2 linked regions of the Homo sapiens genome follow. The protein of the gene in region 1 purifies or fractionates together with the protein of each later gene. This does not show direct contact. Each region holds a gene or a part of one and is shown in the gene's direction. Other genes may lie near its edges.

Region 1 (5,369 bases):
ATTTTTGTATTTTTAGTAGAGACAGAGTTTCACCATATTGGGCAGGCTGGTCTCGAACTCTTGACCTCAAGTGATCCACCTGCCCCATCTTCCCAAAGTGCTTGCATTACAGGCATGAGCCACTGCACCTGGCCTGTGTGCCTCAGTTTTCTCATTTGTACAGTAATAGAAACAACAAAATTCTGAACATTTCTGGTCTTGGAAGATGCCCGCTGTCTTCCCCCCTGCCCCCCAGAAAAGGCAGGATTATTACTTTTCAGTTGATCTATTTCATCTCTTTAAACTGGTTAAGACAATAGCGAAGACTTGGCCGTGTGTGGTGCCTCACACCTGTAATCCCAGCATTTTGGAAGGCCGAGTAGGGAGAACCACTTGAGTTCTAGATGAGCCTGGGCAACATAGCAAGACCCCTGCCTCTACAATTAAAAAATTAAAAATGGCCGGGCGCGTTGGTGCACGCCTGTAATCCCAGCACTTTGGGAGGCCGAGGCGGGTGGATCACTTGAGGTCAGGAGTTTGAGATCAGCCTGGCCAACATGGTGAAACCCCGTCTCTGCTAAAAAATACAAAAATTAGCCAGGCTTGGTGGTGGGCACCTGTAATCCCAGCTACTCAGGAGGCTGAGGCAGGAGAATCGCTTGAACCCAGGAAGCAAAGGTTGCAGTGAGTCGAGATCGCACCACTGTACTCCAGCCTGGGTGACAGAGTAAGACTCTGTCTAAAAAGATAAAAATAAAAATTAAAAAATTAAAAATTAGCTGGGCATTGTATTGCAGGCCTGTAGTCCCAGCTACTCAGGAGGCAGAGGCTGAAGGATCGCTTGAGCCCAGGGGAATGAGGTTACAGTGAGCTATGATCCTGCCATTACAGGCCAACCCAGAGAGATCCTATGTCAAAAATGAATAAATACCCTGGTGTGGTCGCTCTCGCCTGTGATCCCAGGACTTTGGGAGGCTGAGGCGGGAAGATGACTTGAGTCCAGGAGTTTGAGACCAGCCTGGGCAACATGGCAAAACCCCATCTCTACAAAAAAAATACAAAAAATTAGCCGGGTGTGGTGGCGTGGGCCTGTAGTCCCAGCTACTCAGGAGGCTGAGGTGGGAGAATTGCTTGAGTCAGGGATAGGGAGGTGGCAGTGAGCCCATATCGTGCCACTGCACTCCAGCCAGGGTAACAGAGCAAGAACTCATCTCAAAAATAAAAAATAAAAATAGGTGGCTGGGCGTGGTGGCTTACACCTGTAATCCCAGCTACTTGGGAGGCTGAGGTGGGAGAATCACTTGAACCCAGGAGGTGGAGGTTGCAGTGAGCCGAGATCGCATCACTGCACTCCAGCCTGGAAGACAGAGCAAGACTTTGTCTCAATAATAATAATAAAAATAATAATAGTCCAGGCACAGCTCATGCCTGTAATCCCAGCATTTTGGGAGGCCGAGGCAGATGGATCGCTTGAGGTCAGGAGTTGGAGACCAGCCTGGCCAACATGGCGAACCCCAGTCTCTACTAAAAATAAAAAATAAAAAAAAAAAAATTAGCCAGGCATAGTGGTGCGCACCTGTAATCCCAGCTACTCAGGAGGCTGAGGCAGGAGAATCGCTTGAACCCGGGTGTCAGAAGTTGCAGTGAGCCGAGATCAAGTCACTGCACTCCAACCTGGGTGACAGAGTGAGACTCCATCTCAAAAAAAAAGAAGAAAAAAATAAAAAAGAAAGACTCGTTGCCCAGTGCTCCCTCTGGGAGAAGTACATCCAAGGCCCTGGCCCTGGGAGAAAGGCTCTGGCACTAACCCCACCCTTGACCTTTTTCCTGGGCGGTCCTGAAGAATGTTCTGTCCCTTCTCCAAGGCCCCCAGCTGGGACGGCCCAGGCGCCTATAAAGGGGGTCCCCGCTTGGCCCCGGCGCCACCCACCACCATGGACCCCCGTCTGCCCGCCTGGGCGCTGGTGCTGCTGGGCCCTGCCCTGGTGTTCGCGTTGGGCCCCGCGCCCACCCCAGAGATGCGTGAGAAGTTGTGCGGCCACCACTTCGTACGCGCGCTAGTGCGCGTGTGCGGGGGCCCCCGCTGGTCCACCGAAGCCAGGAGGCCTGCGACCGGAGGCGACCGTGAGTGGGGACGGGCAGGGACAGCGCTCTGGGAAGCCGAGGTGGGGCAGGTGCACGTAGGCGCAGATGCACACGTGCAGGGAGGTGGGCAGGTTTGCATGCATGTGCCCAGGGCTCACCTGCCGGCTGCGTGCACAGATCGTGGGTCCGCACTGGAGTGTGTGTGAACGCGCGTGTGAAAGTCCCCAGAGCCGTTAGCCAGGCGTGGTGGCTCACGCCTGCAATCCCAGCACTTTGGGAGGCTGAGGCGGGTGGATCCCCAGAGGTCAGGAGTTCGAGACCAGCCTGGCCAAAATGGTGAAACCCCATCTCTACTAAAAATAATTTTTAAAAAAATTAGCCGGGGATAATGATGCACATCTGTAATCCCAGCTACTTGGGAGGCCAAGGCAGGAGAATCGCTTGAACCCGGAAGGCAGAGGTTGCAGTGGGCCGATATCATGCCATTGCACTCCAGCCTGGGCGACAGAGTGAAACTCCGTCTCAAAAAAAAAAAAAAAAGAAAGTCCTCAGAGCATGAGTCCCCCTGAGGGGCCAGAAACAGAGTGAGGCAGGAGAGGTAGGCTCTTGCAAGTACATGGTGAGATCCTGTCTTAAAATTTCAATATTTTGATCTTCATGAATTTTTGCCTTAATTTTGCTTTGTTTGTTTGTTTTTTGAGACAGGGTCTCACTCTGACGCCCAGGCTGGAGTGCAGTGGTGAGATCTCGGCTCACTGCAGGCTCAACCTCCTGGGCTCAAACCATCCTCCTGCCTCAGCCTCTGGAGTGGCTGGGATACAGGTGCTGCCACCACACCCAGCTAATTTTTTTTTCTTTTTCGTAGAGAGGGAGTCTCACTCTGTTTCCCAGGCTGGTCTCAAACTCCTGAGCTCAAGTAATCCTCCCACCTTGACCTTCCAAAGTGTTGGGATTAGCGATGTGAGTCACTGTGTCCAGCTTTAAAAGTATTTAAAAGTATTGCTTTTGAAAAGTATTGCTTTTCACAATTATGTTACTTTATTTTATTATTTTATTTTTATTTATTTATTTTGAGACATAGCCTCGCTCTGTCACCCAAACCAGAGTGCTGTGACGTGATCTCGTCTCACTGCAACCTCTGCCTCCCGGGTTCCAGCAATTTTCCTGCCTCAGCCTCCAGAGTAGCTGGGACTGCGGGCACGCACCACCACACCTGGCTAATTTTTGTATTTTGTTTGTTTGTTTGAGATGGAGTCTCGCTCTGTCACCCGGGCTGAAGTGCAGTGGCACGATCTCAGCTCACTGCAACCTCCGCCTCCTGAGTTCAAGCAATTCTCCTGCCTCAGCCTTCCAAGTAGCTGGGATTACAGGCCACTCCCCAGGTCACCCACTACCATGCACAGCTGATTTTTTTTTTTTTTTGTATTTTTAGTAGAGACAGGTGAACAGGTGAAACAACAGGTTTCACCATGTTGGCCAGTCTGGTCTTGTTTTGTTTTGTTTTGTTTTGTTTTGACATTGAGTCTCGCTCTGTCCCCCAGGCTGGAGTGCAGTGGTGTGATCTCGGCTCACTGCAAGCTCCGTCTCCCGGCTTCACGCCATTCTCCTGCCTCAGCCTCCTGAGTAGCTGGGACTGCAGGCGCCTGCCACCAAGCCCAGCTAAATTTTTTGTATTTTTAGTAGAGATGGGGTTTCACCATGTTAGCAAGGATGGTCTCAATCTCCTGATCTCGTGATCCACCTGCCTCGGCCTCCCAAAGGGCTGGGATTACAGGCATGAGCCACTGTGCCCGGGCCAGGCTGGTCTTGAACTCCTGACCTCAGGTGATCTGCCCGCCTCAGCCTCCCAAAGTGTTGGGATTACAAGCGTGAGCCGCTGTGCCTGGCCTTTTTACAAATATTTTAAATTTTATTTTAAAAGTATTGCATTAAAATACTTACCTTGCTGGATGTGGTGGCTCATGCCTGTAATCCCTGCTACTCAGGAGGCTAGGAGGGAAGATCACTTGAGGCCAGGAGTTTGAGACCAACCTGGGCAATATGAGACTCAGCCTGAGACAGAGACCCTTGTCTCAAAAAAGGGAAAAATATTAATATTATTATTATTATATATATATATTTTGAGACAGGGTCTCACTCTATCACCCAGGCTGGAGTGCAGTGGCGTGATCTCGGCTCATTGCAACCTCTGCCTCCCAGACTCAAGCAATCTGCCCACCTCAGCCTCCTGAGTAGCTGTGACTAGCTACTCTCAGGCTGGTGAGACCAGCCTGGCCAACGTGGCGAAACCTCGTCTCTACTAAAAATACAAAAATTAGCCGGGCGTTGTGGCGCACACCTGTAGTCTCAGCTACTCAGGAGGCTGAGGCAGGAGAATCACTTGAACCCGGGAGGTGGAGGTTGCAGTGAGCCAAGATCACGCCACTGCACTCCAGCTTGGCAACAGAGCGAGACTCCATCTCAAAAAAAAAAAGCTGATGCTGACATTTGGGGATGTATATGGTAGTGGGGCTGTCCTGTATATTGTAGGGTGTTAGATAACATCTCTGTCTTCTGCCCCCTAATGCCATGAATAGCCTCACACCCCATCCAAGTTGTGACATCTAAAACTGTCCCCAGACAAGTATCCCCTGGAAACAAAATCACCCTGGTTTGAGAACCACTGGTGTCAATTGTAAACTGCAGATTGGGTAGAGGGTAAACAACCCTCTAAATTTTCATAAGTCCTTTTTTTTTTCTTTTGAGACAGTCTTGCTCTGTCACTCAGGCTGGAGTGCAGTGGCACGATCTCGGGTCACTGCAGCCTTGCCTTCCCAGGCTCAAGCGATCCTCCCACCTCAGCCTCCCAAGTAGCTGGGACTACAGGCATGCAGAATTATGCCCAGCTAATTTTTGTATTTTCTGCAGAGATGAGGTTTTGCTGTATTGCCAAGGCTGGTCATGAACTCCTGGGCTCAAGCAACGCACCCACCTAGGCTTCCCAAAATGCTGGGATGACAGGTGTGAGCCACGGTGCCTGGCCTCAAAAAAATATCCTGATGGCTTCGTGCCTCCCTGTCTGTACCCTAGTCCTGGCCCTGGTGCAGGGATATACGACAAGTTTGTGCAGATGTGTTAACACGTGTCCACATGTCTCTGTGTGCCACTCCACTTGCGGTGTTAGGGATCCAGGGGAGGTGGTCTGCAAGGGTGTGTCCTCGTAGGGGTGTGTGTGTGTCTGTGGGTCCACCACACATGCGTGGGTGACCAGGAAGTGGACCCACAGACACATGTACACCCCTGCATGTCTCTGTACCACGAGGAGT
Region 2 (4,910 bases), on another chromosome or scaffold:
GAAATTAGTGTTTACTTAGTCTAGCCCTCATATTTTATGGAGGGAGAAATTGAGTTCTGTGGAGATTAAATAAATAATACAAGAATTGGAGGTAGAGCCAGAACTGGAACCCATCTTTCTTTTTCTCAGTTCATATCCTTCTGCAAATTCCTCTAGAGCAGAGAATACAATTTTTACTTCTTTGAGTGCCCTCAAAAATGGAGACATTGGCCGGGGGGCGGTGACTCACGCCTGTAATCCCAGCACAAGCTAGGAGGCTGAGGCAGGTGGAATACTTGAGTCCAGGAGTTCGAGACTAGCCTGGGCAACATAGACCTCATCTTCATTAAAATAAAAAAAAAGGAGACATTTATTTATGGGATTACTAAGCTGGTTCATAGTAGTGACCACTATTAGATAAGGTGGACACTTGCATCTCGCATTCTTTACCATTCCCACCCTACCTTGTTGTTCTTTGACTCAGAGGCCAGGTATCAAGTGTCATTTATCATCAAGCTTGCAATATTTTTCTCATAGTAGCACTAAGAGCAAAGTGAGATATTTCTTGAACTCATGTCTACCAATAAAGAGAAAATGAAAGGTAGATGGTAAATCAGAATTAGGTTTGGTTGCATTTGATAGAAAACCTAACTAATTGGCTTAAAGAGGAAACATTAATTTATCTCTTACATAAGAGAAGCTGAGATATAGGCACTCCAGGTATGGAGGCTCCACAATTATCAGGGACTTAAGCTCCCTTTTTCCTTTTGCAACGTATTTTGTTGCTAGTGTCAGCCTTAGCCTCCCTCCCTTTAAGAGGGAGAAGATATGTAACTAGTAAAGCTCTAAGGCAAGGCCTCATGGTCCAGAATGACTGCTGGAAGTCCAGCCATCACATCCATATTTGAGTCAAGAGGAAAGGATTGGGCAAAAGAGACTCATTTCATCTCCCAATTATGTCAGCCTTTTAAAAATATCTTCCCAGAATTCCTATCCAATACTTATGCCTACAACTATGACCAAAAGTTAGTCATATAGTCATACTTAGTTGTAAAAGAAAGGCTTAGCCGGGTGTGGTGGCTCACACCTGTAATCCCAGCACTTTGGGAGGCCGACGCAGGCAGATCACCTGAGGTCGGGAGTTCAAGACCAGCCTGACCAACATGGAGAAACCCCGTCTCTACTAAAAATACAAAATTTGCCGGCGTGGTGGCGCATGCCTGTAATCCCAGCTACTCGGGAGGCTGAGGCAGGAGAATCGCTTGAACCCGGGAGGCGGAGGTTATGGTAAGCCGAGATCGCGCCATTGCACTCTAGCCTGGGCAACAAGAGCGAAACTAAAGAAAGGTTGAGAAATGTAGTCTTTTGGGGCAATTTTCCCCTTCCAAAAAATTGGGGTTCTATTAATAAGGAGGAAGAGGAGAATGATTTTGGCTAAATAAACTGTAGTATCTACCAAAGATGAAGAGAGCCATAGGTTTCCAGAATAGTGGGAGAGCATATTTTTTTAGAAATAAATATTCTTGGCTGGGCATGGTGGCCCACACCCATCATCCCAGCACTTTGGGAGGCTGAGGTGGGAGAATTGCTTGAGGCCAGGAATTCAAGACCTACCTGGGCAACATAGTGAGACCCAGTCTCTTTTTTTTTTTTTTTTTTTTTTTGAGATGGAGCCTTGCTCTGTCGCCCAGGCTGGAATGCAGTGGCGCCATCTCGGCTCACTGCAAGCTCTGCCTCCCGGGTTCACGCCTTTCCCCTGCCTCAGCCTCCCGAGTAGCTGGGACTACAGGTACCCACCCCCATGCCCGGCTAATTTTTTGTATTTTTAGTAGAGACGGGGTTTCACCATGTTAGCCAGGATGGTCTCGATCTCCTGACCTTGTGATCCGCCTGCCTTGTCCTCCCAAAGTGCTGGGATTACAGGTGTGAGCCACCGTGCCTGGCCTTCCAGTCTCTTTTTAAAAAATTATTTAAATATATTTTTATTTTTGTAGAAATGAGGTATCGCTATGTTGCCCAGGCTGGTCTTGAACTCCTGGGCTGAAGCAATCCACCTACTTTGGCGTCCTCCCAAAGTGCTGGGATGAGAGGCGTGAGCCACTATGCCCAGACTCAGAGACCCTGTCTTTAAAAAAAAAAAAAAAGAATGTGGCTGGGTGCAGTGGCTCACACCTGTAATCCTAGCACTTTGGGAGGCCAAGGCAGGCGGGATCACCTGAGGTCAGGAGTTCAAGACCAGCCTGGCCAACATGGTGAAATGCTGTCTCTACTAAAAATGCAAAAATTAGCCGGGTATAGTGGTGCACACCCATAGTCCCAGCTACTCAGGAGGCTAAGGCATGATAATCACTTGAACCCAGGAGGTGGAGGTTGCAGTGAGCTGAGAGTGTGCCACTGAACTCCAGCCTGGGCGACAGAATGAGACTCTGTCTTAAAAAAAAAACAAAAGGAAAGAGAGGGAGAGAAAGAAAAGGAGAGAAAGGAAAGGGAGGAAAGGGGAGAGGGAAAGGAGAGAAGAAAGGCGAAAGTAATGGGGAAAGGAAAAGGGGAAAGGGGAAAGAAAGGGGAGAAAGGGGAGAGAGGACAGGAAAGGAGAAAGGAAAGGAGTCTTACTTGGTCTGCTTTATTCATTGACTTAAATAACTTTGATACTTTCTGGCCCATTTAGGTGTTTGCCATTGTACCCCCACTCAGAATGACTGATGCTGTGCCATGCACATAATAAATGTTCCTGATGCTGGGGTTTGCATTGGCTGGGACTACCTGAGAATTGGTCTGACTCCATCAGCGCCATTGCTGGTGGAATGTTTCATTGGGTCATGGCCTCTGAAGTATCTTTATTTCCATAGGCAATCTTGCTGCCAATGATCTCTCCCCGTCCCGAATAGCCAGACTACAGAAGATCCTTCACAGCTATGTGCCTGAAGAGATCAGGGATGGAAATCAAGTTCGAGTTACCTCATGGGATGGCAGGAAATGGGGAGAACTGGAGGGGGACACCTATGACCGGGTGAGTGATTCTTGATTTAGGACATGCATCCAGCTTAATGCGGCCTCCCCATCCTGGTTCTAGGGCCTGAGGGGTTAGGATCCAGCCCCTATGTTTGAGCATGTAGAGCTGTTTCTGGACTGGCCAGTTCTACATTGGTGATTTGACCAAAAGAAAAATCAGCTTAGATGACTGGTTATTATCTCTATTAAAGATAGTTGGCAGCAAAAAAGAATTTGAAACTATTTGAGTAGGGGAAAAATTTACTAGGCTTACTTTATTTCTCAAGTCACTTGGTTGCTCAGAAAGCCTCATGAAGGTAAGTAAGAATAAGCTCATTTATTTATTTTTGAATGTTAGTACAGCACATGGTACAAAATTCAGAAGGCACAAAAGAGTATCCAATGAAAAGTGAGTTTTTCTCATCTGGCCTGTAGCCCCCTACTTCCCCACCCTATAGATAACGATTGTTTCTTTTTTTTTTTTGAGACGGAGTTTCGCTTTTGTTGCCCAGGCTGGAGTGCAATGGCGCGATCTCTGCTCACTGCAGCCTCCGCCTCCTGGGTTCAAGCAATTCTCTGCCTCAGCCTCCCGAGTAGCTGGGATTACAAGCGCCCACCACCACGCCCGGCTAATTTTTGTATTTTTTTTAGTAGAGACGGGGCTTCACCATCTTGGCCAGGCTGGTCTTGACCTCCTGACCTCGTGATCCACCCGCCTCGGCCTCCCAAAGTGCTAGGATTACAGGCGTGAGCCACTGCGCCCAGCCGGTAGTATATTATATTATACTCACTATTCTGAACTTTGTATTTTTTTATTTAATAATGTGTCCTGGGGTTAAATCCTTTTTTAATTTTGTTGACATTGTGGAAGTATAGTTGTTGAATAACAGTTTACATCCATTTAAGATTTTGATAGCGATTGCTAAATTTCTCTGTGGAGGTTAAACCAGTTTCACTCCTACTGGTAATGAATGAGTACTGATTTCCCACATGCTGCCAATATTGGTGCTATCAAACTTAATTTTTTTGCCAAATGGATAGTATCTAATTTACAATCTCTTATTAATCATGTTGAAAATCTCCATATTAATTTTTTTAAAGTTTTTTTTTTTTGAGTGGCAGGTTTTCACTTTGTCACCCAGGCTGGAGTACAGTGGTGTGAACACGGCTCACTGCAGCCTCAACCTCCTGGGCTCAAGGGGTCCTCCTGCCTCAGTTTCCCGAGTAGCTGGGACTAGAGTGTGCCACCATGCCCAGCAAATGATTTTTTGTAGAGACGGGGTCTCACTATGTTGCCCAGGCTGGCCTCGAACTCCTGGGCTTGAGCAGTCCTCCCACCTTGTCCTCCCAAAGTGCTGGGATTATAGGTGTGAGCCACTGTGCTGGGCCAGTCTCTTCATGTTTTTAAGTTATTTATTTTATTTTAAATGGCATACTCTAAAAATATTTGTTTAGAACACATATTTCTAAAAATATATAAAATATATAGCTGTTGTCTCTGTGTTGTCACCTGATTTACCTAATCTGTCTAGTTCTCACCATTCTGCCTCAACCACTCTAAGAAACTGAAAGAAAGACCAAGGCTTATGGAATCTTAGATAGGCTTGAGACTTGCTTTCTGCCTGTGTAGGAATCCCCTACTCATTTTTTTCTTTTTTTTTTTTGAGACAGTTTTGCTCTTGTTGCCCAGGCTGGAGTGCAGTGGCGCAATCTTGGCTCACTGCAGCCTCCGCCTCCTGGGTTCAAGCCTGGGTTCAAAGTTCGATTCTCTTGCCTCAGCCTCCCAGGCAGCTGGGATTACAGGTGTGTGCCACCACGCCTGACTAATTTTGTATTTTTTTAGTAGAGACGGGGTTTCACCATGTTGGTCAGACTGGTCTCGAACACCTGACCTCAAGTGATCCATTAGCCTCAGCCTCCCAAAGTGCTGGGATTATAGG

The links. The genes of interacting proteins can lie anywhere in the genome.
Region 2: the proteins of INSL3 (region 1) and NSUN4 purify together in Homo sapiens (affinity purification with mass spectrometry; 3 studies listed by BioGRID and IntAct, with this or other methods). This does not show direct contact.

The regions. Positions count from the first base shown.
Region 1 is NC_000019.10:17,818,051-17,823,419, reverse strand, and holds the start of INSL3 (insulin-like 3 isoform 2 precursor), read left to right. Parts: upstream 1-1,900; 5' UTR 1,901-1,913; coding exon 1,914-2,103; intron 2,104-2,929; coding exon of another isoform or gene 2,930-3,024; intron 3,025-5,369. UniProt on the Homo sapiens protein: Seems to play a role in testicular function. May be a trophic hormone with a role in testicular descent in fetal life. Is a ligand for LGR8 receptor.
Region 2 is NC_000001.11:46,350,040-46,354,949, forward strand, and holds part of NSUN4 (5-cytosine rRNA methyltransferase NSUN4), read left to right. Parts: intron 1-2,828; coding exon 2,829-2,989; intron 2,990-4,910. UniProt on the Homo sapiens protein: Mitochondrial RNA cytosine C(5)-methyltransferase that methylates cytosine to 5-methylcytosine (m5C) in various RNAs, such as rRNAs, mRNAs and some long non-coding RNAs (lncRNAs).